2 separate regions of the Homo sapiens genome follow, and region 1 is linked to region 2. Evidence: fine-mapped expression QTL. Tissue or cell type: esophagus mucosa. Region 2 holds a variant in brackets; the other region holds the start of a gene. All regions are shown on one strand. Distances are from middle to middle.

Evidence for each region. PIP is the estimated chance that this variant, and not a neighbour inherited with it, causes the effect.
Region 1: DAPK2 starts here. The variant in region 2 is fine-mapped to the expression of DAPK2 in esophagus mucosa (GTEx, PIP 0.93).

What each region holds. Positions count from the first base shown.
Region 1 is chr15:64,043,151-64,051,150 of GRCh38, reverse strand. DAPK2 (death associated protein kinase 2) reads left to right here and starts at 4,666. Exons shown (of 12, transcript NM_014326.5): 1 at 4,666-4,853. RefSeq lists enhancers at 146-692, 6,233-6,282, 6,333-6,382 and silencers at 4,493-4,702, 4,723-4,782, 4,813-5,032.
Region 2 is chr15:64,001,562-64,009,821 of GRCh38, reverse strand. All of the region lies in intron 2 of DAPK2 (death associated protein kinase 2), which reads left to right. Among named protein-coding and RNA genes, the nearest start is that of DAPK2, 41 kb to the left of the region's middle. RefSeq lists a silencer at 1-60. The variant G/A (reference allele first, on the strand shown) is at 5,062.

The DNA.
Region 1 (8,000 bases), 41 kb before region 2:
CGAGCCTAAAGAAGAAGGTGGTTGGATGTTGTAGCCCTAAAGGTGGGTATAGTTTGAGGGGTCCTGGCCACACAATGTGTCACCAGCCTCTGTCCTGAATAGAAGGCAATGGCATATGCATGGGTCATGATCCCATAGCGTAGGCCCTGTGCTGGCTCAGGTGGAAATAGGGGCGGTGAATGACAAGTGGTTTCATACCTGCAGCCCTTTACATGCACAGCTGCTCACACCCCATGTGCCCTGCCTCCCTTGCCCCACTGTGGACTTTTCTGTTCTCCCGGTGATCCCTACTCTTCTTTCAAGTTTGAATCAAGCTTTCCTTTTCTCTGGAGGCTCCTTCTGGAGTAGATCTGACCTTTTATGGCATTGGGTCTTTATTTGCCCCTACTCCAGCACATAACCCCAGGAGGTACTATTGAATGTTTGCGGAGTAAAAGAGTGTGTACACATGTCCAGGAAATCCCCATCCCCCAGGTTCTCTAGAGAGAGGCAAGGCCTCCCATCCCCCAGCTCCTTCCTCCCTTCTCTCCTCCCCTTCCCTGCCCCATCCCTGTGGTGCTGAGTCCAGCAAGGCTAGAGGCTGAAGCAGCTGCCTCTGGCTGCAAGAACCAGTGCCCCCGGGGGTGGGGGGGGTAGCAGGAAAGGTTGCCAAACCAAGCCTGCTCCACACCTCCCATCTAGGAGGGCAGATGGCACAGGGCAGAGTGGGCATGGCTGGGAAGGGCTGAGAAGCCAGGCCACCAGGTCAGTTTGGGAAGAAGCAGCTTCCTGCCGGCCTTCCATCCAGTAGGCAAGCCCTCTGGGGAGGAATCACCTGTGCACTCCCTTGGCCGAGAGCCTGAGAGTCAGGACTTGACCCGTTGTCAAGAAGACTGCATTTCAGACTGCATTTGGCAATTCTCTGGGCCAGGCTAGGGGTGGGATGGGGCGCAGAGATGAATAAGATCCATTTCCTCCCCAGGGGAGCTTATTGCCAGACATTTAGGGAATAATAATAACAGTTAATAATCATTGCGGACTTTACCAAGTGCCAGACACTGATCGAATTGAAAAGTAACTGCATGCTCACAACAACCCAAGAGATAAATGCTACTATAAGCTCCATTTGACCTATGGGGATAATGAGGCACAGAGAGATCAAATAGCCTGCCCCAGACCACATGGCACGTAAGTTGCATGCTGGGATGCCTGAGTGTGGGCCCAGGCAGTCTGGCATCAGAGTCTCTGCATTTAGCCGTCACACTACACATGCTGTAAGCCAACCCAGGTGCCATCTGCCATGGCCAACATGCAGCATCTTAATCCCCACCTTGCCCCCTTGTCAGGAGGTTTTTAGGCTCTGTAAACTTGCCAGGCACCAAAGTATGCTTTAGGATATCACCATGACTAGTGCCCTTTGCTGCCTGCCATGGTTACATCTTTATCTATGGGCTTGTATTCTCATCCCTGGGAAGCACAGGTCCTGTGACTCTACCATCTCACAGTCCCTTGGAATGTCTTTTACAAAGCAGGTACTCAGATGTGTTTGTCATTGAGGGGGTTGAGAATTTCCCTAGGTCTCTGTGACATGAACAGACTGGGTCTCAACCTGTGCACTGGGAATCACCTGGGGAGTTTAACAAAAACTGATACCCAGAACTCATCCTCAGAGGTTCTGATGTAATTGATGTAGGGTGCAGTCTAAGCATGGGGGATTTTAAGCACCCCATGTTATTCTCAGTTATTCTGATGTACTGCCTGGACTGAAAAGTTCCAGATTAACACTGTTTTAGAAATCTTGGAAGTTTCAGTTGAGGGAAGGCAGCAGAGGGAATAGCTTCAGAGACCAGTAGGCAAGATTCATGTCACAGCTCAGCCACTTACAAATTGGATGAGTTTGAGCAAATCAAATTTCTCAAGCCTCAGTTACATCATCTGTAAAAGAGGATAATGACATCCCCCTAGAAGTGAAGCACTTGAAGTAAGATTATTGAGCATCTACTAAGTGCCAGGTGCTTGGGTGCTCTTAGGGGACAATAGAAAACAAGACAGCTATGGCCCCTTGTGATATTTACCTTCCTTAATTCAGTTTAAGAAACCTTTACTGGGTTTGGGATATCAAGCACTGTATGGGTTCAAAGATGGACAAGAAATTGTACTTGCCCTTGAGAAAAGGAGAAGTAGACACTAATTAAAATAGAGGAAGGAAGATGACAAGAGATGTACCAACCAAGAGTGGTGAGGTTCAAAGGAGAGAGGTATTTAGAGGGCAGACCAGGGAAGTTTCTGTGGAAGACATGATACTTTAGAAGGCTCTTAGAGGATAGATAAGATTTTGTAGAATGGGATGAAGGGTAGTGGAAACGAACAAAAGCATGGAGGCAGGAACAGCCAATAATCCAACCTGGCAAAAGAGCTGGATGTGCATGCAGAGGAGGGAAGGGAATGTGCATACACAGCAGGAAAATAAGGGTTGGGGCCTTAAATGCTAGGGTGAGGCATTAACACTCGATTTGGTCAGCCATGGGAACCATGCAGGGACTGGAACTGAGTTGGATAATTCTTAGCTCTTAATACCTGGACTGCCTCTGGCTTCATTCTGGAATTTGTGTCTTCATTGCCACTGTCCTCGGGGCCTCCCCTTTTCTGCTGATGGCCACCTTGGTCCTGTGTTCAGTGCCCTGTCGCTGCCCTCAGGTGAGGGTCTGATGAACTCACCCAACCTTAAGCATAAGATGCATCTCCAGATGGTAGCTTCCTAGATAGTTGCATTCTGGCAGGTACAGTGGAAGGGGCACCAGACTGAATCTGGAGGAGGCCTGGTTCTAATCCTAGCTCTGTCTCTCACCAGCTATGTGATGTTGGGCAAGTCACCTCCCTTCTCCGAGCCTCAGTTTCCTCATCTGAAAAGTGGCCAGGGTCAATTGACAATGACCCTTCCAGCTGCAATGGACTCTGACTAACTTGTCAATTGCTAAACCCAAGAATGTCTCTTTTGACTCATGTAAGGGGCTGCTGCTGCTGACAATGAGGTATTAAGCATGAGGCTCAAGGGAAAGAGATGGAGAGGCCACATGTAGGTGATCAGCAGGGTCAGCTGAGCCCAGCCTTGGATTCATCACAGCCCAGGTACTGGGTATGAGAATGGAGAAATCTCCAGATGATTTCAGCCCCCAGCTATTCAGGTGTTCCCAGTTGAAATCCCAGACACTGCAGAGCAGAAATAAGCCATACACACTGTGCTGTCTGAACTTCTGTCCCTCAGAATGCATGAACATAGTGAAACTGTTGTCCTGTGCCACCAAGGCTGGTAATGGTTTGTCACCAGTGATAGGTAAATGGAAATGGAGGAAGAGGTGTTTAGGGATAGTTTGGTGGGGGACTTCTCATGTTGGTGAAACTTCACCAGTGGGTGTCATTCCCTTAGGTCCGTTGACATCAGAAACCACCTCTAGTCTTGGATATTACTCTATATATCATGCTGCTCTTAGGAGAGGAGGCTCGCTGGCTGCACTGTTCTGAATTATTGTGAAGTTTATAAACAAGGAACTCTTTGCCGAGGATGTCCTGGACCCGGAGGCACTGCTCAGCTGGGGGGTGGGGTCCATCTGTATTTGTCCCAATGTCCAAAAGGCTGAAGGGTGTGTGTGTGCTCACACTGGTAGAGGTCCTCTAGGTGCATCTTACACACTCCATCTCATCTCAGCCCCACCATAGCTTCATTAGGAGCTACCGGAAGGTGCGTTTCTCCCACTTTACTGATGAAGAAAGAGCCATGCCCAAGAACACACATGCGGAGTGGCAGGGCAGGGCTTTGAACCTGGTGGTAGGACTCTGAATCTAAGGCCCTTTTGAGGAGCCCCATGGGTGACTTAGGGATGGAAATTCCAGGGGTTGGAGGGGTCCTCATTTGCTTCCTCTAAACAGCCTCTTGTTTTGAAATAAGACAAATGAACTTGGCTTAAGTTCTGTTTTCCCTTCCTTCCTCCCTTCACCCCCTCACTCTCATTCCTTTTTTCCTCAGGGATTTTTTGGCAGAGGGCAGAGAGAGGAACCCATTCCCAAGTCCTCTATTAGAGAAGGCGTGATGGTGAGAGGGGGGCTTCACTCAGCAACCGTGCCAGGACAAAGGGCAAACGAGGGCAGGCCGCTCTCAGGCTGGGTCGGGGGCAGTGAGGAGCAGAGCGGCCCTTCTCATCGCAGCCCCCACCTTGCTGTACGCTGTGGGCTTGAGGTTTCCAGGAGAGTCTGCGGTGTAGGGAGCGCTCTGGCTGGGAGGGAGGAGACGGCCTATTCCTCAGTGGGGCTTCCTCGCTCACGGTGTGTATGGTGGGGAGAGGAGCACACAAGTACCATTTTCTGAGGATTGTGCCAGACCATGTCATACGTATAAGCTCATTCAAATCGATTTCCAGATAAGGCCGGGGGAGGGTAGCCGACTTGCCCAAGGCCACGCAGCATGTGCGCGGTAGAGCCGGTAGGGACGCGCAGAGGGTCTTGCTACCGACTCTCCCCGCTCTCCCGGGAGTCTGGGAGCCCTGAGGTGTCCCCTACCCGGCCGGGAAGCTGGGCTCTCGCCCCGGGACTGTCCGGAGGGGGCTCCAGCAGGGGGCGCCCCGAGCCCCGTCCCGGGCAGCCGGGCGCGCCTCCAGCCGGCGCCTGGGACGGGGCTGGCCGCTCCGCCCCCTCGGCTCCTAGGCTGCTCGGCGGGCGGGTGCCGGGCGCTCTGGGAGGAGAGGACTGCAGGGCCGAGCCCAGCGCACCCCGCCGCGTCCCCCGTTCCCGCCGCGCCCGCCGCGCCCGCCGCGCCCGCCGCGCCCGCCGCTCCCGCCGCGCCTGCCGCGGCCGCGACCGCGGCAGCTCAGCCTCCCGCCGTGAGTAGCACCCGTCTGCGGGCTCGATGGGCGGGACGGGGCGCGCGGCCTGACGGCAGCAGCGCCCGGGTCTGGGGCTGGCGGGGCGAAGAGATCCGGGGCACTCGCTCGCAGATCCCGGGCCCGCCGCCCCAATGCCTGACGCCGTGGCCCGGGGCATTGTGGCCGGCACCCGAGCGCGGGAGCTGCCCGCCGCTGCCCTGGGGCGCCCTCCGGAGCCTGGCACTTTGACCTGGGAGACAGGGTAGAGGCGGCGGGCAGAGCCAAGCACCCAGCAGGGAGATGGGAGACAGACGTCCATCGAGTTAGGCCCCCTGGAACGGGCAGAGCACGCCCGGCTCCCGGCCAAGTCTTCTCAGCTTGGGCTGACTCTCTCACCTCTTGCTCCCGCCTGGCACAAGGATGTGATGCGAGGAGGGTGCTCAGATGTCTGAGCTTCCTCTGGGGCTGAATGAAGCTGGGGTCCCCGCCGTCAGGCGCCCCGGCCTGGGGTAGAGCTAGGATGGGCGTGGGGGCGGCCAGCAGGTGTGCTGCAGGTTGGGGTGGAACGGCTTGGAAGGGCGTTGCCAACAGTTGACTAGGACTCTGGGCTAGGCATTTTGGAGGTCCCAAGGCTTGCATAGGTCTGGCTAACCCTCACCGTAACTCTGCACGGTGGAAATTGGTATTCTTACTTTACAAAAGAGAAAACAAGGTCCAGAGAGGTGAGCCTCGTTGAGGCCGTGCAGGTAATGGTAAGGCAGTGGTGCACACTGGAGGAGAGGGCACCATAGCTGGCTGCCTCGGGGGCAAGCGGGCAGGTGCAGGGACAGCGCCTGACATCTTGTATCCTGGAATCCTGTGGAGGGCAGCCACTCTGGTTTCTGACACTGCGACTCCCAACTGCCTCTGTGGAAGATATTCCTGGGAGAGTCCTGTTGACCTAAGAGGCCGTGGTGCCTTGGCCTCTTCACAGCTAACTTCACAGCCCTGTCCTTCCCCAAACCGCTCATCTCCCAAGATGTTTTTTGAGCACCCTCAAGTGGCACCACTGATGATTCAGCACCTTCAGAGGAGACTTGGGCAGAGGGGTCAGGGGTGTGTGGATGTGGCTGGAGGTCTGCTCCTCTGGGGTAAGTTCCTGGCTGGCAGGAATGAGACCCGCACTGACCCTGCCCACCTCCTTGAGGCCTCCCGATTTGTTAGCTGTGGGGTGAACAAGCAGGCTTCCCAAGGGAGCTGGATCTTTGCCAGAGAGACCAAGTTTTTCTTGTGTCAACTCAGGCAGGTGGCTGACCTTCTGTGGGCCCCAGCTTCCTCATTGGAGACTGTGATGGGTCAAAGCCTGGAATGTAGAGAGGAGCTCTGTAATGCCGGAGCCCCATCCCTTCTGTTGGCAGCCTCTCCAGAGCCTGAGTGTGATGATTCCTAATGGGGGTGTGTGTAATGAGACGGTCGTGTGTGTTTTGCCCAACCATTGCCTGCCCTCTTGCTGTGGTCCCGTTTCACTCACTTGCACTTGGTGAGGTGGGATGAGGAACTGAGAGAGTTCACTTTGCAGAGTGAGCTGGGCCAGTGGTGGAGAGGGCTTCTTGAGTGTTGAGAGTTTCCTATGAGGTGATCTTCCAGCCCTAGACACCTCCTCCTAGCTTGTCCCTCAGGAGGCCACTGACTTTGCCAACCCTGGTGACATCTTGGAGGAGTTGGGGTGGCTATCAACAGAAGAAGCCCTGGGAAGAGGAGCGGGATGGGTCACCTGTATGATGCTCAGTGAGTCCCTTCCCCTTTCTGGATCTCAGCTTCCTCTTGTAAAAACAAGTGGGTTAGACCAGACAGCAGTGGTTTTCAAACTTCTGTTTCACAGTGAATTCTTACCCAGAACGCCAACATATAGTATGGATAACGTGGAACTGCTCTGGCTTCCCCTTCTCACCCTGGTGATCCTGAAGCAGTTCTAAAAATCCCTAAATAGATGATCTATGGGGTTCTAGGAAATCTGTGGTAGCCCCCTGAAGTGTTGCCTGGTATTAGAGTTGTAGGCAGGAATTTGAATTCCAAGGACTCCATCAGGAGAAACATGGGCATTAAGGTGGGTATCATCCTGGGAGCATCTGGAGCTGATGGCCTGTGCTTCTGGCCAAAAGTTGTAACTGTGTCCCTTCCCTCTGCCATGTGATTTCAGCTTTTCGAGGCTGGAAAGGTCCTTGTGCCTCTGGCTCCTTATCTGGGTCCTAGCTGGTGACTATAATTCCACTTCAGTTTCACCCCTTTAGTTTGTTTCTAAACTGGTAAAATGCAAATTCGCCTTAGGAGAGGTGTTAGGAAAGTGCTTGAAGTGGCTATCAGTTGTTTTACCTGATGAGCATCTGAGTAGCGGCCTTGAGAAAGGAGGCTGGGGAACTAAGTTAAAATCAGCCAACACTTATATAGTGCCTACTGTGTACTAGCCTACGACAAGGGGACAGAGGTAGGAATGTCACAATTCTTGCCCTTATGGGGCTCCAAGTCACAAAGAGGAGGGAAGGAATTCACGTTATCCATGGACCGTTTAAAACATTACACATGGGTTATCTCATTTGTCTCACATTAGTCTCATTTTAAAAAATTATGTAAAATTTTGATCACATACAAAATCATCCCATATATCCATCTAACTACCACCCAGATCAGGAAACAACATTGCTGGCACTCTGAAGCCTCCGAAGCTCCCCTTCCAACTCTCCCCTGAGTGAGGGGATAGCCACTCTGCTGACATCTAGCACCATGCATTAATTTTACCTAAATGGGATCACACAGTATGCAGTCTTTTGTGTCTGTCTACTTTCATTCAACATTATGTTTCTGAGATTCATCCATGTTGTTGCAGGTAGCAGTAGTTTGTTAATTCTTATTGCTGTATAATGATTCCATTGTATGGGTATATAGTACCTCAATTTGTTTATCCAGTCTTCTATTGATAACCATTTGGTTGTTTCCAATTTTTAGTTATTACTAATAGTATTGCAGTGACCATTCTAACGTGGATCATTTGGGAAAACATCTGCATGCATTTCTCTTAGATATGTCCAAAGAAATTGCTGAACAGTTTTCCAAAGTGGTGGTCCCAGTGTATACCCCTCCCAGCAGTGTTTGAGAGCTCTAGTTGCCGCACATACTCACCAACACTAG
Region 2 (8,260 bases):
CACACAGATGAAGTGTAAGACATTGCCCTGCCCTTAACAGATTAACCTAATTTAGGGGCGGGGGGAAAGGCAAACACAGTAAAGAAATGAGCATAAAGAGACAATTAAGTGTACTGAACTTTAGGAGCTAACATATTCCAAGGTGAGGATTCCTGGGGGGTGGCATGGTCAGGGAAGACTTCCAGGAGGAGCTGGAACTTGAACTTAAAACAGGAGTAGCATTTGGGTAGGCAGACGACCTCCTAGTTTAGGCAAATAGGGCTAGCAGAAACCCAGAGGTGGAAATGAGTGTGTTGGGGTGTGTCTGCTGGGAAGCAGAGTACATTTGGGCAAGTAGAATGAGGCTAGGTGGTGAAAGGCCCCTGGGGCCTGGCCAAGGAGCTCAGGCTTGATGGGAAGGAGAAAATAATCTTGAGCAGAGAACATGATGATGTCTGCGTTGTAGGACAATATACTGGGGAATGTGGGGTGTGGATTGGGTGTGTGGGTGGAGGGCTGAAGACAGCAACACTGATCAGGAAGCTGTACTAAGTGTTGGTCTGTAAAAGTCTAGCTCAGGAGGATGGCAGGTAATGAAGAGATACTAGCCCAAGTCCATTCAGAAAACATGCACTGCAGATCTACTGTGTATCCACTGTAGTTGGTGCCTGGGGGTACAAGGCTGGACAATTACAGTCTACTAAGGGAGAATAATATATAGAGAATTTCAGTAAAATGGGCTGAATCCCATGATGGAGGTATGCACAGGAGGTGAAAATAGAGGAGGGCCTCATGTCCAGGACACCTTGAGGGAAGGATCAGCTGTGACAATAAATTCTGGCCAACTTTCCTATGCCTCCTTTAAACAAAGAGGTCTTATGTTTGCAGACTGAAAAGGGGATCCTACCCTTTCCTCCCCTGTCATCTGTAAGGCCCTTGGTGATGCTGCAGCTCTGTGGCCTGTCCCTCAAGTACACCCTTGATTGGATGACAGCAGTGCACTGCTCTGTTGGTTAGGGATGTCTATGCAGGTGTTTCTTCTCATTTTCTTACTTTTAAAACACAGGAAATTTTAAAAGGAAAAGTTTCACTCAACTATTTGTTATCCTCATGCACTTTTGCATCTGTGTTCTCTAATACAAAAATTGAATCAAACCATACATATCATTTGTGCATGTTCACTTATTATTTTATAAACATGTCCCTTATGATGTTCATACTTGCTATTTTAATGTTTATATAATTGTCTATTGCATCCAGAACATCTGATTGCCAAAGCTGTTCCTTAGTGGAGAATGCTTAGCTTGTTTCCAGCTTTTTCTTGTCTATGAAACTATGTTCTTTCATTTGAAGTCTCTCTAGAGGCCAAATTCCCAGAATACAATGCACCTGGACTCAGATAATCTGACTTTAAGTTCTAGATCTGTGGCAAATTGGCTCTGTGACTGTAACTCTGTGAGTCTCAACTTCCTGATCTCTATAATGGGGAGAGCACTGACTGTGCAGGGTGTTGAGATACTGTCTGAGGCCAATATATGAAAAGTGCTTCATAAAGAACCTGCATATAGGGTAGAGTTGATATCACCTGGTGAAAGCATGTGAGTATTTTTATGGTTCTTTTTTAAAAAAACAGATATAATTTATATACAATTCACCCATTTATAGTGTCCTAAAGCCATTAGTACATTCGCATATAGTGTATTAAAGCCATTAAATGGCTTTAATGTATTCAGAGTTGTGTGACCATCATCATCATCAATTTTAGAACATTTCATTACCAAAAAACCCCCTTACCCATTAGCAGTCACTCTCTGCTTCTCCCAAACCCACTAGCCCTAGGCAACCACTAATCTTCCTTCTGTCTGTGGATTTGCCTGTTCTAGACATTTTGTAAAAGTGCAATCATACAACATGCGGTCCTTTGTGACTGGCTTCTTTCACTTAGCATAGTATTTTCAAGGTCCATCCATGATATAGCATGGATCAGTACTTTTTTCCTTTTAATTGCCAAATAATATCCAGTTGTATGGCTACACCACCTTTTGTTCATCTATTCACTAGATGATGAACATTTGGACTGTATCGTCTTGACATTTAGTGCTAAATGGCACACAGCAAACATAGTTGTATGCTCCAAGCTATTTGATGTGCCAAAAAAGTCGGACTCTCAGTCCCTTATGCAGAATTTTATAGTTAAACAAACTGCAGGCATCAGGTAACTGTTAGGAGAAGCATCACAGAGCTATCCAAGGGGATTTTGGGAAACTCCTGTGCAGAGTAAGCCTGTCCCCCTCCAGGAGGGGACCTGTGCCTGCCTTCCCAGCATTGACTTTCTCTGAGGCTGGGAGATCAGGAGGCAGGAGAGGTTTCCTACTGGCTCTTGGAGGATGGAGAGCTCTGGCTGGAGCTAAGATGAAATGTGAGCAGGGGACAGATTGCCATGATAGGGGAGAGGAAGGAAGACTGGGGGGAACTGGAAACTGAGTGGGGGCCAGAAAACAGGCTGAGGGGACCCTGTACCTTCAGGTCATTTTGAGAAGAGTGAGAAAGGGTTGTGTGAAAGGGAATGAGAAAGGTTGGCTGGGCATGGTGGTGCGTGCCTGTAATCCCAGCTACTCGAGAGGCTGAGGTGGGAGGATCACTGGAGACCAGGAGTTCAGGACCAGCCAGGATGACATAGTGAGACCCCGTCTCTAAAAAAAAAATTTTTTTTTCAATTAGCTAGGAGAGGTTGGCACACATTTGTAGTCCTAGCTACTTGGGAGGCTGAGGTGGAAAGATCACTTGTAAAGTGAAAAAGCACAGTAAAGTGAGGGTGGGCCCACCACTGCCTTTAGATCCTCTCCCCTGCAGCCCATGCAGGTTTTTCCGAGTTAAGGTTTGAGCCTCCCTGCATTTCAGTGACTTCCTGGAGTCGGGCTCCCTATGGGTGGGAGGGAAGAATAATGTCTACTTCCTTCTTGGCTACCTGCTAGATTGATGTAATCTGTACTTGGCCTCACCTCCTCCAGCTGCCAGGCCTTCCCCTGGCAGGCACCAAGGATGAGTTGTCTGACACATGAGGCAGGGTGAGAAGGGAAGAGAATGGGGCCACCTGACAGGAGACCTGTCTGGTCCTGCATCTGTCACTGCCCGGGAGAATAGGTGATGTGGGCAAGTTCCTTTCCTTTGCTAGGCCTCAGTTTCCCCATTTATAAAGTGAGGTGACGGTAAGAAATTCCTTTTATTTCCATGGTTCCATGAGGTTTGCCAAGTTTTATTGTATACTGGGGGATCTCTGACGTCTTTCTTGGTTGTTTCTGCCCTGCTTTGGTGAAGTGGGAATGGAGTTGGGGGAGTTCCTTGCTTCTCTTGAGCGTCTAATATAGGTGACGATGTTGTACGTCCTTAGCTGGTGGTTGCCAAGGGCTGACATATACTGTATAGACCAGGACATGATATAAGGAGAAAAAAGTCATTTTTGCTCCCTGGCTGGTCAGTCTGGGGGCTTATGGCCTCTGATGGTAAAGGCTGACATTCTGCCTCCTGACTGTTTTTTGTTAAATTGGCAAAAGCTACATGTGTCAGAACTCAGGTGGCTACACATCTTGGTGGCAGGTGCTGCTTTGGTGGCGGAAGGATCAGGTTGGTCTGGGAAAGCTGGATGGACCAGTGTGGTGAGCGGAGACCACTCAGTGTGGGTTGGTCCTGACACCCTCTCAGGAGTGATGGGATGCCAGGAGAGGCCATAGGGAGAACCATGCTGAGCTGGCTGGGTTTGTACGTGTTGCAGAGGGTTTTTTGTGGGGTTTTTTTTTTTTTTTTTTGAGTCAGGATCTGGCTCTGTCACCCAGGCTGGATTGCAATAATCCGATCATAGGTCACTGCAGCAGCCTTAAACTTCTGGGCTCAAGTGATCTTTCTACCTCAGCCTCCCAAGTAGCTAGGACTACAAATGTGTGCCAACACGCCTAGCTAATTAAAAAATTTTTTTCTTTTTAGAGACAGGATCTCACTATGTTGCCCTGGCTGGTCCTGAACTCCTGGTCTCCAGTGATCCTCCCACCTCAGCCTCTTGAGTAGCTGGGATTACAGGCACGCACCACCATGCCCAGCCATGTTGCAGAGTTTTATGTGGTTTGAATCTGGTTCTTCTCCCAGATCTAGTCTTTGTGTTTACTTCTTCTCCTTTGTGGGCAAGACAGTTTTTTGTTTTCCTCCCCTGCCCACCCCTACCTTGGCTATCTGTTTCCCAGTATTTGCTGTTGGCCTTAGGCATGAGGGACTCTGGGCAGATTGGTATAAGCCCATTCCTATGTTGGGAGGGCACATGGCTGTCCTCCCACCCTCTGAGTTGCTTCAGACATTCCCTTTCCACATCTTCTCCAGCACCTGCACATCTTTCCGGAACTGCACATGATATTCTTGGGCTGGCATCTATGACTTAGGTCAAGGAAAGGTAAGTTTCTGCTCTTGTATCTAGTATCTGTGGTGGCTGAACTTACCAAACCCTTGATCAAACACACAACCTCACACACAGAGCCTGAAAGTGAATCAAAGGGTTTGAAATTACTGCTCTTTGGGAAAATCTAGGTAGGATGACTTGCCCTGAGCTAACTGGATACCCCTCCTGAGAAGAGCCTCTTGGCTTCCCTGAGACCACAGGACAGAGCACCACTCAAGGATGGGTATTGGGTTCACTCAGAAGACATGTCTTTGTCTTGTCAAACCCACAATCTTGCACCCTGAAGTGGGGGCCTGAGGCCAGAGCACAACAGCAGGTGGATCAGTTAAGCTTTGGGCTCAGTTTCCCTGTTTGGGAAGTGGGGTCTCTCGGCTAGTCACCTTTCATCCTTACTTAAGTGCTAGGAGGATTAGGTAAGAGAGTGTTTTGAAAGCTCATGAAAACCTTCATCTCAAAGGAACTCTGGGAGTAGAAGGAATTAACGTTTCAAAGGAAAGATAAGTCATCACTGATTTGGCACTGAAGCCAAGAGTGTAAGGTCAGAGAACAACCTGTGGCTGCTGAAAGGGAGGGTGTGGCTCTCAGAGTTACAGGATCATTGGGTTGTGTCCTTGGATGACTCAGGAGCGGTGCTGCAC[G/A]TGCTTAGTGCTTTTGTATGTGTGCCCTGGAGCCTGTGCGAAAGCCCGCTGCCAAACCAAGGGGCCCACTGTGGAATTATTGTTATGCAAGCTGAGGGGAAAGACCCCACCAAACCAGCCAGCAGTTTCCATTGAGGCCTAGCAGAGACCCCTATCTCCACCCTTGAAGAGGGGCAGTAATGTCTCTGAAAGTCTCTATCCCACTAAGGTGCTCAAAGTCCTCAGAACACTTGTCTAAACCAAGCTGCCCCATCCAGGCAAAGGTATCAGCATGAGGCAAGCCATAGATTATGATGAGGATTTTTTTAAAAAGTGAGGGTCCCCCTGTTGAATTAATGGATCTAGGCATTGATCATCAGAAGCTGGTAATATCACAAAGAGAGATAGCCAACGTTAGGCGCCTCCTGATGGGAACACACAGCACCACCAATGAAGGAGTCTTGCAAGAAACTCAAACCTGAATCTGATCAAGCCTCTAGATCCAGCTACTCATTTACAGGAAATACAGGGGGCAGAGGAACATGTAAACAATACTATCAGGAAGTGGCCAATAAAATCCAGACAGTGAGAAATGGTATAGGTCAAAAGACCTGGTATTTATGACAAATGAAGTATAAGAAAAAGAGAAAAATGGAGGGATGGAGGGGAGCTCTGGGAAGGGAGAGAGAGAGAGAGAGAAGAACCTAAAGATTAAAAGAGGCTTAAGAGACATATCATTTGCAATATGTGACCTTCCTTGGGTTTTGATTTGATGGAACAAACTGTAAAAAAAAGTTAAGGCACATGGGGGAAATATGAACACCAAATGGATATTGATGACATTAAAGAATTATTGTTAATTTTAAAAGGTGTGATAGGCCAGGTGCCATGGCCCATGCCTGTAATTCCAGCACTTTGGGAGGCTGAGGCAGGCAGACACTTGAGGTCAGGAGTTTGAGACCAGCCTGACCAACGTGGTGAAACCCCGTCTCTACTAAAAATACAAAAAATAGCCAGGTGTGATGGCACACACCAGTAATCCCAGCTACTCTGGAGGCTAAGGCAAGAGAATCACTTGAACCTGGGAGACAGAGGTTGCAGTGAGCTGAGATTGCGCCACTGCACTCCAGCCTGGGTGACAGAGCAAGACTCTGTCAGAAGGAAAAGAAAAGTAAAGAAAAGAAAAGAAGGAAGGAAAAGAAAGAAAAGAAACTTAAGACCCAAGACAGGATGACTGATTTGCTCTTGATCACTCAGCTGATTAAACCCAGGTAATGCCACCATGGGTCAGCAAAGAAGTAGGCGAATCCTGGTGATGCTGGAAGCATTGGATGCCCTGTAAGGACATGATTTTGCAGTCTGCAAAGTGTGTCTAGGTCTCTGCCAGAGCAATGCACTGCCTATGATAGAGTGCTATTGCTAAACCTTCCCACTAATGCAGATTAATTTCACACCCTTTGCAAGTGTTGCTATTCCAAGTTTTTCCTCACTCAGCCGCTGAAAAGGGACAGAATCTAGAGATGTGCTCTGGATCGAAGTCCAGCCTTCAGAGTTAGAAGAGAAGAGCCAGTAGGGGGTCGTCTGTCCATTCTATCCTCAAGGGGTCTCCCCTGAGATCAGTTCTTCCCCACCTTATCTTGTGGCCTTATTGCATCCACCCACCCTCCTCAGCCTCCAAGCCTAGGTCCCATTCCTGCAAATTCCTGCTTTGGGTAAATTAATAAAAGAGTCAGTCTTAACACTACCCCACCACCTCTGGTCCCACGACACACACACACACACACACACACACACACACACACACACAGGTCCCACGACACACACACACACACACACACACACACACACACACACACACACACACAGTGTCTCAGTCTTTCTCTCCCTCCCTCTCTCCTCCTCCCTCTGCTGCTGGTTTCATTAATTAGGCGATTCTTTGTTTAAAAGACCCAAGACTCTAAGGAATGATACTTTACAGATGAGATATCAGTGAGTTTATTGGGTGAGTTGGGGGCACAAAGGCCCCCTGAATTCTTACCAAATAGCTGCCTACTGTATCTGTGTGTGAGATTGATGGGAGTTCATACTATCATCCCTTGCATGTGTGTGGCCTTTTGCAGTTTACAAAGCATATTCACTTGCATTGCTATGTGAGCCTCATAGAAGCCTGACATAGGTAGATATTAGCCTCATTTTACAGAAGTGGAAACTGGAGCTGGGAGAGTTTAGTATGTGTTCTGCCAAGTCCTCCAGTTGGTCATCTATCCATCCATCCATTAATTATGAAATATTTTTTACTATTATGGACAAATTATGTTGATAGATGCTATGGAAGACACAGGGACAATAGGAGAAACTGTTAAAACCTTTAAAAATGTGTTCATCTTCAAAACGTATTTTATTGAAGGACATATATTGTTTATTGCTAGAGCATGTAGAGCTCATTTGTGTTTCCAATAAGAAGACTTACATAAAAAAAGGAATTTCTGATGAACTCTGTTAATAAAAATGTTTTAAAGTAGTCCATCCTTTCCTCTTAACACTATGGTTGATCTGCGTTGAGCTGGGACGTTTCCACCAGATGGGGATCAGAGGTGCCACCTTGGAGGTTGACTGTGCCACTCTCCCCAGGGCCCTGAGCTTGGCTCTTCTGCAGTAGGAGTTGGCAATACCTGTCCCCATGAGCCTCCCAAGGATTTGAGAGTGTAAAATGAGAGGATTCATGTGAAACTACTTTGCAAATCATGAAGTTGCTCTTCAAGGGCTACTTTTATTCACAGAAGGAGTCACTCAACAGATATTTATTAATTTGTGTTTGTTCATAATACTGCCTTTACCAAGGTAGGAAAGCAAATTTTCAGCAAAGAGGGTCAGAACCAAAGGAAATGTGGCATGAATATTGGGGTGCCTAGGATTCTGTTATGCAGTGGATTGGGGCCTTGCCGTAATATTTTCTAAAACAGCACTTCTCAAACTTTAATGTGTATGTGGATCACCTGGGAGTTATGTTAACACACACATTCTGATTCAGTAGTGCTGAGATGAAATCTAAGATTCCACTTTTCTGACAAGCTTCCAGGTGGAGTCAATGCCGCTGGTACAACATTTAGGAGCAATGTTCTTAAGGGTGCAATTGAGAGGAAAGGAGGGGAAGTACAGCCCGGGGCTCCTAGAGTGGGGAGGGGGGCACACTGCTGACCTATTTGTGCCATAAGGGGAG